Homo sapiens: one gene and its partner. The protein of the gene in region 2 purifies or fractionates together with the protein of the main gene of each other region. This does not show direct contact. Each region holds a gene or a part of one and is shown on either strand. Other genes may lie near its edges.

Evidence for each region. The genes of interacting proteins can lie anywhere in the genome.
Region 1: the proteins of CDK13 (region 2) and FBXO11 purify together in Homo sapiens (affinity purification with mass spectrometry; 3 studies listed by BioGRID and IntAct, with this or other methods). This does not show direct contact.

Annotation. Positions count from the first base shown.
Region 1 is NC_000002.12:47,833,360-47,837,011, forward strand, and holds part of FBXO11 (F-box only protein 11), read right to left. Parts: intron 2,643-3,652; coding exon 2,513-2,642; intron 1,513-2,512; coding exon 1,429-1,512; intron 1,353-1,428; coding exon 1,220-1,352; intron 1-1,219. UniProt on the Homo sapiens protein: Substrate recognition component of a SCF (SKP1-CUL1-F-box protein) E3 ubiquitin-protein ligase complex which mediates the ubiquitination and subsequent proteasomal degradation of target proteins, such as DTL/CDT2, BCL6, SNAI1 and PRDM1/BLIMP1.
Region 2 is NC_000007.14:39,953,214-39,956,865, reverse strand, and holds part of CDK13 (cyclin-dependent kinase 13), read right to left. Parts: intron 1-3,652. UniProt on the Homo sapiens protein: Cyclin-dependent kinase which displays CTD kinase activity and is required for RNA splicing.

The DNA of each region.
Region 1 (3,652 bases), on a different chromosome or scaffold from region 2:
TTTCCAGCAGCAGCACTGGAAACAGAAGCTCAAGAAGAGAAGAGACCTCTATTTAAATTTATTTCCAACAGTGGCCTCGATTTAGAAAGTAATAAAATCACCAGACAAACATTTGCTCTAATCTATTCTCCCCATCTTCATGAGGAGATAGAGGAAGAAAGCAAAAGAGGCTGTAAATGCAAATTTCACTAGCAAATAATAATTACTAGCTATCTTAAAATGTTCTATGTACTGTATCCTCAAAATAAAAAAACCACAAATCTTCAAATGACTCAGTGTTTGACAGATATTACATTTATTCTTAGAAACCTGACCATAAATAGCTTTGAAATAGTACAAAAGTATTTAAAAATTCTATTTCAGTTCCTTTAAAAACATAGCAATAGAAATATTAGCATCTTTCTTTGCAATTCTCCTGCCTCAGCCTCCAGAGTCGCTGGGATTACAGGTGCACACCACCACACCTGGCTAATTTTTTTTGTATTTTTAGTAAAGATGGGGTTTCACCATGTTGGCCAGGCCAGTCTTTAACTCCTGACCTGAAGCGATCCACCCACCTCAGCCTCCCAAACTACTGGGTTTACAGGTGTGAGCCACCACACCTGGCTGCATCTTTATTTTCAAATAAAAGATGAAAAAGCTATTTTTCTTCGTTTAATGAATAACTCAAGGCAAATGGAGAAAGTACTAACATTAGGAAACATATACAGCCAGGCACAGTGGCTCATGTCTGTAATCCCCGCACTTTGGAAGGCCGAGATGGGCAAATCACTTGAGGCCAGGAGTTTGAGACCAGCCTGGCCAACATGGCGAAACCCTATCTCTGCTAAAAATACAAAAATTAGCCACGCATGGTGGTGCATGCCTATAATCCCAGCTACTTGAGAGGTTGAGGCATGAGAATTGCTTGAACCCAGGAGGCAGAGGTTACAGTGAACTGAAATTGTGCCACTGCACTCTAGCCTGAGTGACATAGCTAGACTCTGCATCAAAAAAACAAAAAAGGTTGGGGGGGGCGGGGAGAAAGAATTTATATACAGCTATAATTTCTGAACTCTTATGTTTTCACTTCCTTCACTTAAAATATGTGTGATATCTTCATTCCTACTTTACCAGCAGGATATTATAAAACTGGATTTTAAGTCACTAGCATTTTTAAAATCCTATCACATAAATGAGTAAAATATTAAAATTTTAATGACAATGCATTTCAAAATACCTGCACCAATCATGGTGATTGGAGATTCAATATATATCCATTCATCAGTATATATTCCAGAATGAACAAAGATAAGTCCATCAAAATGAGCCTCTTGTACCCCACCAAGGGCATCTTCAATAGTATCATAATACTAGAAAAAAATAAATGTGTCAGTACAGAACTGAAAGATTACCATTTTAAGTCATAAAAATAAAAATCAAACATACCAACATATTTTCTCTTCCTTTATATCTTGCAGGGTTACTGTAGAAATGTTCAGCAAATCCTGGCTTTACATGTGCACCTTTATACTAAAATGTCAAAAACAAAACAAAACCATTGACTACTAACATAAACCTTATATTTAAATTAATGTACAATTGCATGAACAACTTTTATTACAAATCAAAAATAATTCTCAACTATTCCAAATAATTTTCTGTCAGAGTACAATGTAAAATCTAAAACAAGTTATGATCCGGTAATATCCAGAAACAAAGAACAGGGTTTCTCAATCTCAGCATTACTGATATTTTAAGTCAGTTAATTCTTTGTTATGGGGGCTGTCCTGTGCACTGTAGGATGTTTAGAGGTATCCCTGGCCTCACCCAGCCAAATAGCAGCAGCACACTCTCCTCCCATTGTGACAATCAAAAAATGTCTCCCGACATCGCCAAATGTCCCACAGAAAGCAAAATCATCTCCAGCTGAGACTCACTCACGAAGGGCCGTATAACAATTAAGCTAAATGTGGAACTTTAAAACAAATGCTGAACACTAATAATTTAAATACAAGTTCAAACAGACCCATTGAAATCACAACTGCTCTTAGGCTACTAATGCTTACTGTACTAACTTATTAATGGGGGGATATGTCAGTAGTGAAAAGAATTGCTGAATATTCTGTTGGTTGATAAATGTTCATTAAAACCTACTCAACTTTTTTTTTTTCCCTGAGACAAGAGTCTCACTCTGTCGCCCAGGCTGGAGTGCAGCAGTGCAATGTCAGCTCTCTGCAACTCTGCCTCCTGGGTTCAAGTGATTCTCCTGCCTTAGCCTCCGAAGTAGCTGGGACTACAGGTGTGCGCCACCATGTCCGGCTAATTTTTGTATTTTTAGAAGAGATGGAGTTTCGCCATGTTGGCCAAGCTGGTCTCGAACTCCTGACCTCAGGTAATCCTCCTACCTCGGCCTCCCAAGGTGCTGGGATTACAGGTGTGAGCCACCACGCCCAGCCTAAACTTATTTCTTAAAAGAAAGTTATTTACAAATGTATAATATAAACCAATATATTCTATTTATATTTCATACCAACTGCTGGAAACTCTCTTTCCAGGGATTTGGATGTTCATACTCTTCTGGATTAATCTGGTAGAATTTTCCAGGTTCAGGATGCATCATAGGGCGAGTATATTCAAATACTTCCATATATAATCGTTTCCTGAACAGAGAAAGGAATTAAAATTTTCTTGATAAAATGTCCTTTAGATTAATACAGTTTTGAACAACTATAACAATTATTTGAGGCCTCAAAAACTTGAGTAAGAAAGTAAGAATAGACAAAAATGAATATTAAATCACAGGATTTTTTTTTTGAGACACAGTCTCACTGTCATCCAGGCTAGAATGCAAGTGGCATGATCTTGGCTCACTGCAACCTCCCTCTCCCAGGTTCAAGCCTCAGCCTCCTGAGTAGCTGAGATTATGGGCATGTGTCACCACGCACAGCTAAAAACAGGATTTAAAACGTGAAAACGTATTTTTCACATTTAAAATTTTCAGTGTAGTTGCATATGGAAATTATGTTTTTTTCCTTTTTTTTCTTTGAGACATAGTCTATTTCTATCACCCAGGCTGGAGTGCAGTGCCACGATCTCAGTTCACTGCAACCTCTGCCTCCTGGGCTCAAATGATCCTCCCACCTCAGCCTCCCAAGTAGCTGGAACTACAGGCACATGTTACCCAGGCTGGTCTCGAACTCTGGAGCTCAAGTGATTTACCCACCTCAGCCTCCCTAAGTGCTGGGATTACAGGCGTGAGCCACCATGCCTGGCCGAAAATTAGTTTTCCTGCAAAAATTTTCACAATGTAACTGCGTATGAAAATTTGTCCACACAGAACAACAAAAAGTTTCAATTTCCTTACAAACTGTTTACTCAGGAAGGGGAAAAAAAGTTATCCTTACTGTAAAAACATCATGATTATCACTTAAAAAGATAATTTTCTTTCTTTTTCTTTTTGAGACAGAGTCTCACTCCCGTTGCCCACACTGGAGTGCAGAGGCGTGATCATGGCTCATTGCAGCCTTAACCTCCCAGGTTCAAGTGATCCTCTTGTCTTATTTTTTGATTTTTTTTTGTAGAAATGAGGTCCCAGTATGTTGCCCAGGCTGGTCTCAAACTCCTGGGCTCAAGTAATCTGCCCACTTCAGCCTCCCAAAGTGCTGGGATT
Region 2 (3,652 bases):
CCTGTAATCCCAACACTTTGGGAGGCCCAGGCGGGAGGATTGTCTGAGGCCAGGAGTTCAAGACAAGTCAGAGCAACATGGTAAAACCCATCACTACAAAAAACACAAAAATTAGCCAGGCATGGTGGCATGCACCTGTAATCCCAGCTACTCGGGAGGCTGAAGCAGGAGGATCCTCTGGGCCCAGGAGTTCGAAGCTGCTGTGAGCCATGATCACATCATCACTGCACTCCAGGGTGGGCAAGTGACCTAGACACTATCCCTAAAAAAAAAAGTTTAGGTTTATTCTAATAATAATTCTAATATAATGGGAGTGACATGAGCTAAACAAAGATATTAAGAAAACTCTCCTGATACAGAATGAACTGAGAAGAATGGATGAAACGAGAAGAATGTTCACAGTAACATGAAGTCTAGCTAATTAACCTGAAATGGTGATAGAAATGGAAAGAAATAAATATTAGCGTTAGCGGAAAAGAAATGTGATAAGGACTGAGTAGATGTAAATGTCAGGTGAAGTTTGGTCAGAGAAGGAGCAAAACACAAGGCCATCACTTTGAGAATGAAAATAATGATTACAGCTTTGGAAATTTAAGACAGTTAACCTAAACTTCCATTCCCTTCTGAGAGTTTCTCCATTTGTTCTAGTATCCTATTTTTTGACACTTTTTAAAAGCATTTTAAGAATTCCATTCACCTAGGGATTTTCATGACTTATTTCTATTAAGTATATATTAAATCAGTGGCATATTTTTTGAGTTTTTTTTTCATTACGGAATATCTTCATTTCATATACTTTTGAACTATAGTTTTCAGGACAAAACACTAAATAATCCATTACAGAGGTACCACATATAACAATAATTTTTCTTATTTATATTTAGAGTCCACCCATCTTTTTCAGATTCTTAGGTTCTTATTATTCCATAATGAATGCTTCTGTGCTTCTTGGTGGAATGGAACTTCCATAGGTTTAGAGAAAGAACAAAACACACATAATAATTTCTTGCACGGATTTTAATCTGACATCAGTAACTTCAGATCAAAATAATTCTGGAAAACCACCACCAATAACTAAGAGTAATTAATGTCTTCAAGAAATGTTTTTAGCCAATCTTTGTAAAGACAAAGTAGGAAAAACATCCACAAGATTTAAACCCAATTGTTCATAAAAACTACAAATAAACACAAATAAGCTGAAAGAATCTTTAGAAGATTCATCTTTTAAAATCTTCAAAATGCTGATAAAATGGCCAAGGAACAGAAACCAACACATAAATACCCAAGCAGAAGCTGATTTTTCACCAAAACAGGTCATTATGTGAGGTGGCCAGCGCCCCTGAATGCCAACTAAATTTCAATAAAGCATATGCTTTAAGTGGTAAGTGGCCCATGTTCTTTAATGAATAGACTGCTGTTAGAATTCTTCATATTGTAACCAAAATCCACCTTCATATTGTAACCAAAATCCATGCTCTTTAATATTAAGAGCATGTACTTTCAAATCAGCCTAGGGTTTGAATCCAAGCTGACCTTGGAACAAATCGCTTAAAACCTTTTAGAGCTCCCGTTTCCCAATCCATCAATGGGAATGTTTCCAACTATCACATGGATTTTGGTGGTCAATATATGTTAAATATTTATCAATGCCTGGCACACAGTAAAACACTACAAACGGTACCCTCCCCTCTTTTCAGCACACCCTCACATTTATTATAGGGCCAGTCAGCAAGATTACGTGACCTTCCACACCCCAACAGTCAAGTAGTAAAGAAAATACGGCAAACAGATTATACAGGGGAAAAAGTAAAGCTAAGAGGGAACTGATGAAAAGAAATGCATGAGCCGAGGACTGAAGATTCAAATGAAGACAAAGAACAAGTTGTGAAGTGGAAATCACTAAAATGAAAAGGATTTATTTATCTGACATCAAAAAAAGCTTCAGGCTGGATGTGGTGGCTCACACCTGTAATCCCTGGACTTTGGGAGGCTGATGCAGCAGGTGGATCATTTGAGCCCAGGAGTTTGACACCAGCCTGGGCAACATGGTGAAACCCTATCTCTATTTTCAGCTTATTTAAAATTGTTTTTCATCTTCATACCACGATTTCAATACTATTTTGAATGTGTATGCATTTCCTTGAAAATATCTACGCTGACAATTCATTAATATGTAAGTTCTGCATAGGCTGGGGAAATATTACACTGTTTCTTACAGCATTACACATGGTCTGTATTAAATATTTTGAATGAAGTTTGTAATACAAAGCCCACATTAATATTTTGTATGTTCAGTAAACTCCAGCATCCCTTCATTTACACCTATTCAACATTTATTAAGAGTGTACTTGTGCCAGATACAGTGCTGAGCACTAGAAATACAATGATGGATAAGACAGCCCAGTTGCCTTCATGGAACTCACAGCAGTCCATTCATTAAAGAACATGGGCCACTTACCACAAGTAATAAATTCTGAAAATAAATAAAACTTTTCCATTAATCTGTACAAGTGAGTTCAATTAACCGTTCCTAAAAAGTAACAATACACTTATTATATTTTAAAATCTTTAGATTTTTCCAATCAACTATTTTAGCTATTAATTCTAGGCCCTATGTTTTAAGCTGGACATTTGACAAACTAGATATAATGTGAAAAATCTGAAAACCGTATGAGTTTTTTAGTCTAGAAGACTCAGAAATCATGACAACTGTCTTTATATTTTAAAGGGTTAGCATACACGTGTGCTCTGTACCATTCCAAAGGGTTAAACTTGGAGCAATGGTTCGAAGGTGGATTTTGGTCACAATATGAAGAATTCTAACAATTTGGGATATTGAATAATTCAACGACCTTAAATATTTCTGTAAGGCTGCATGCTTTAAAAAGATAAATTTTCACTTAATCCTTGAAATAATCCAGAAAAACAAGTGTTTCCCTGTTACAGTTTAGGAAACTGAGTCTTCAAGGATCTTGCTAAAACACTCAAGTCCCAAATCTAGTGAACAGGTTGCCTCTAACTAACGTGCTTCCCACCTCTAGATGTATTTCAGGCACATACCAAATGGCCATCTGTCAGCAATGTTAGCCAAGACACCCTAAAGTTCCTTCCAAATTCAACTCTTTAGAAATACTGGTGGTCAATGTAAACACCATGAAAAGATTATGTGTTGAACGGTCCTCCAGAATGCAAGCTCTATGAGGGCAAGTAACTTTTTCTTTCCTGCTACATCCCAATACCTAAAACAGTATATGGCATACAATACAGGGTCAAAAAATACTTGCTAAATATGAATAGTCCTAGTCATACATACCACGATTATATATTTCATATATGTATATAAAAAATACATACCACTATTATACAATAAAGGATCTCGCTGAAGTATCCAGCAACTAAAAAACCTGATAAGTACAAAATCCATTCTTAAAATTGCATCAAGCACTTTAAATTGTTCAAGTGCTGAAACTTCAACCAACCAGTTTGCAAAACAAATTCAACTGCAAAAACTGCAAACCCTTTGGCAAAGTATTATAGTTAAAAGTAACATACAAAGTCTTACAAGATACAATGGCTAATTTTGATGAATGAGTTTTTCAATTCTTCGCTAAGGTATCAACTAACATTTTAAGTATGCTTCAACACTCTTTAA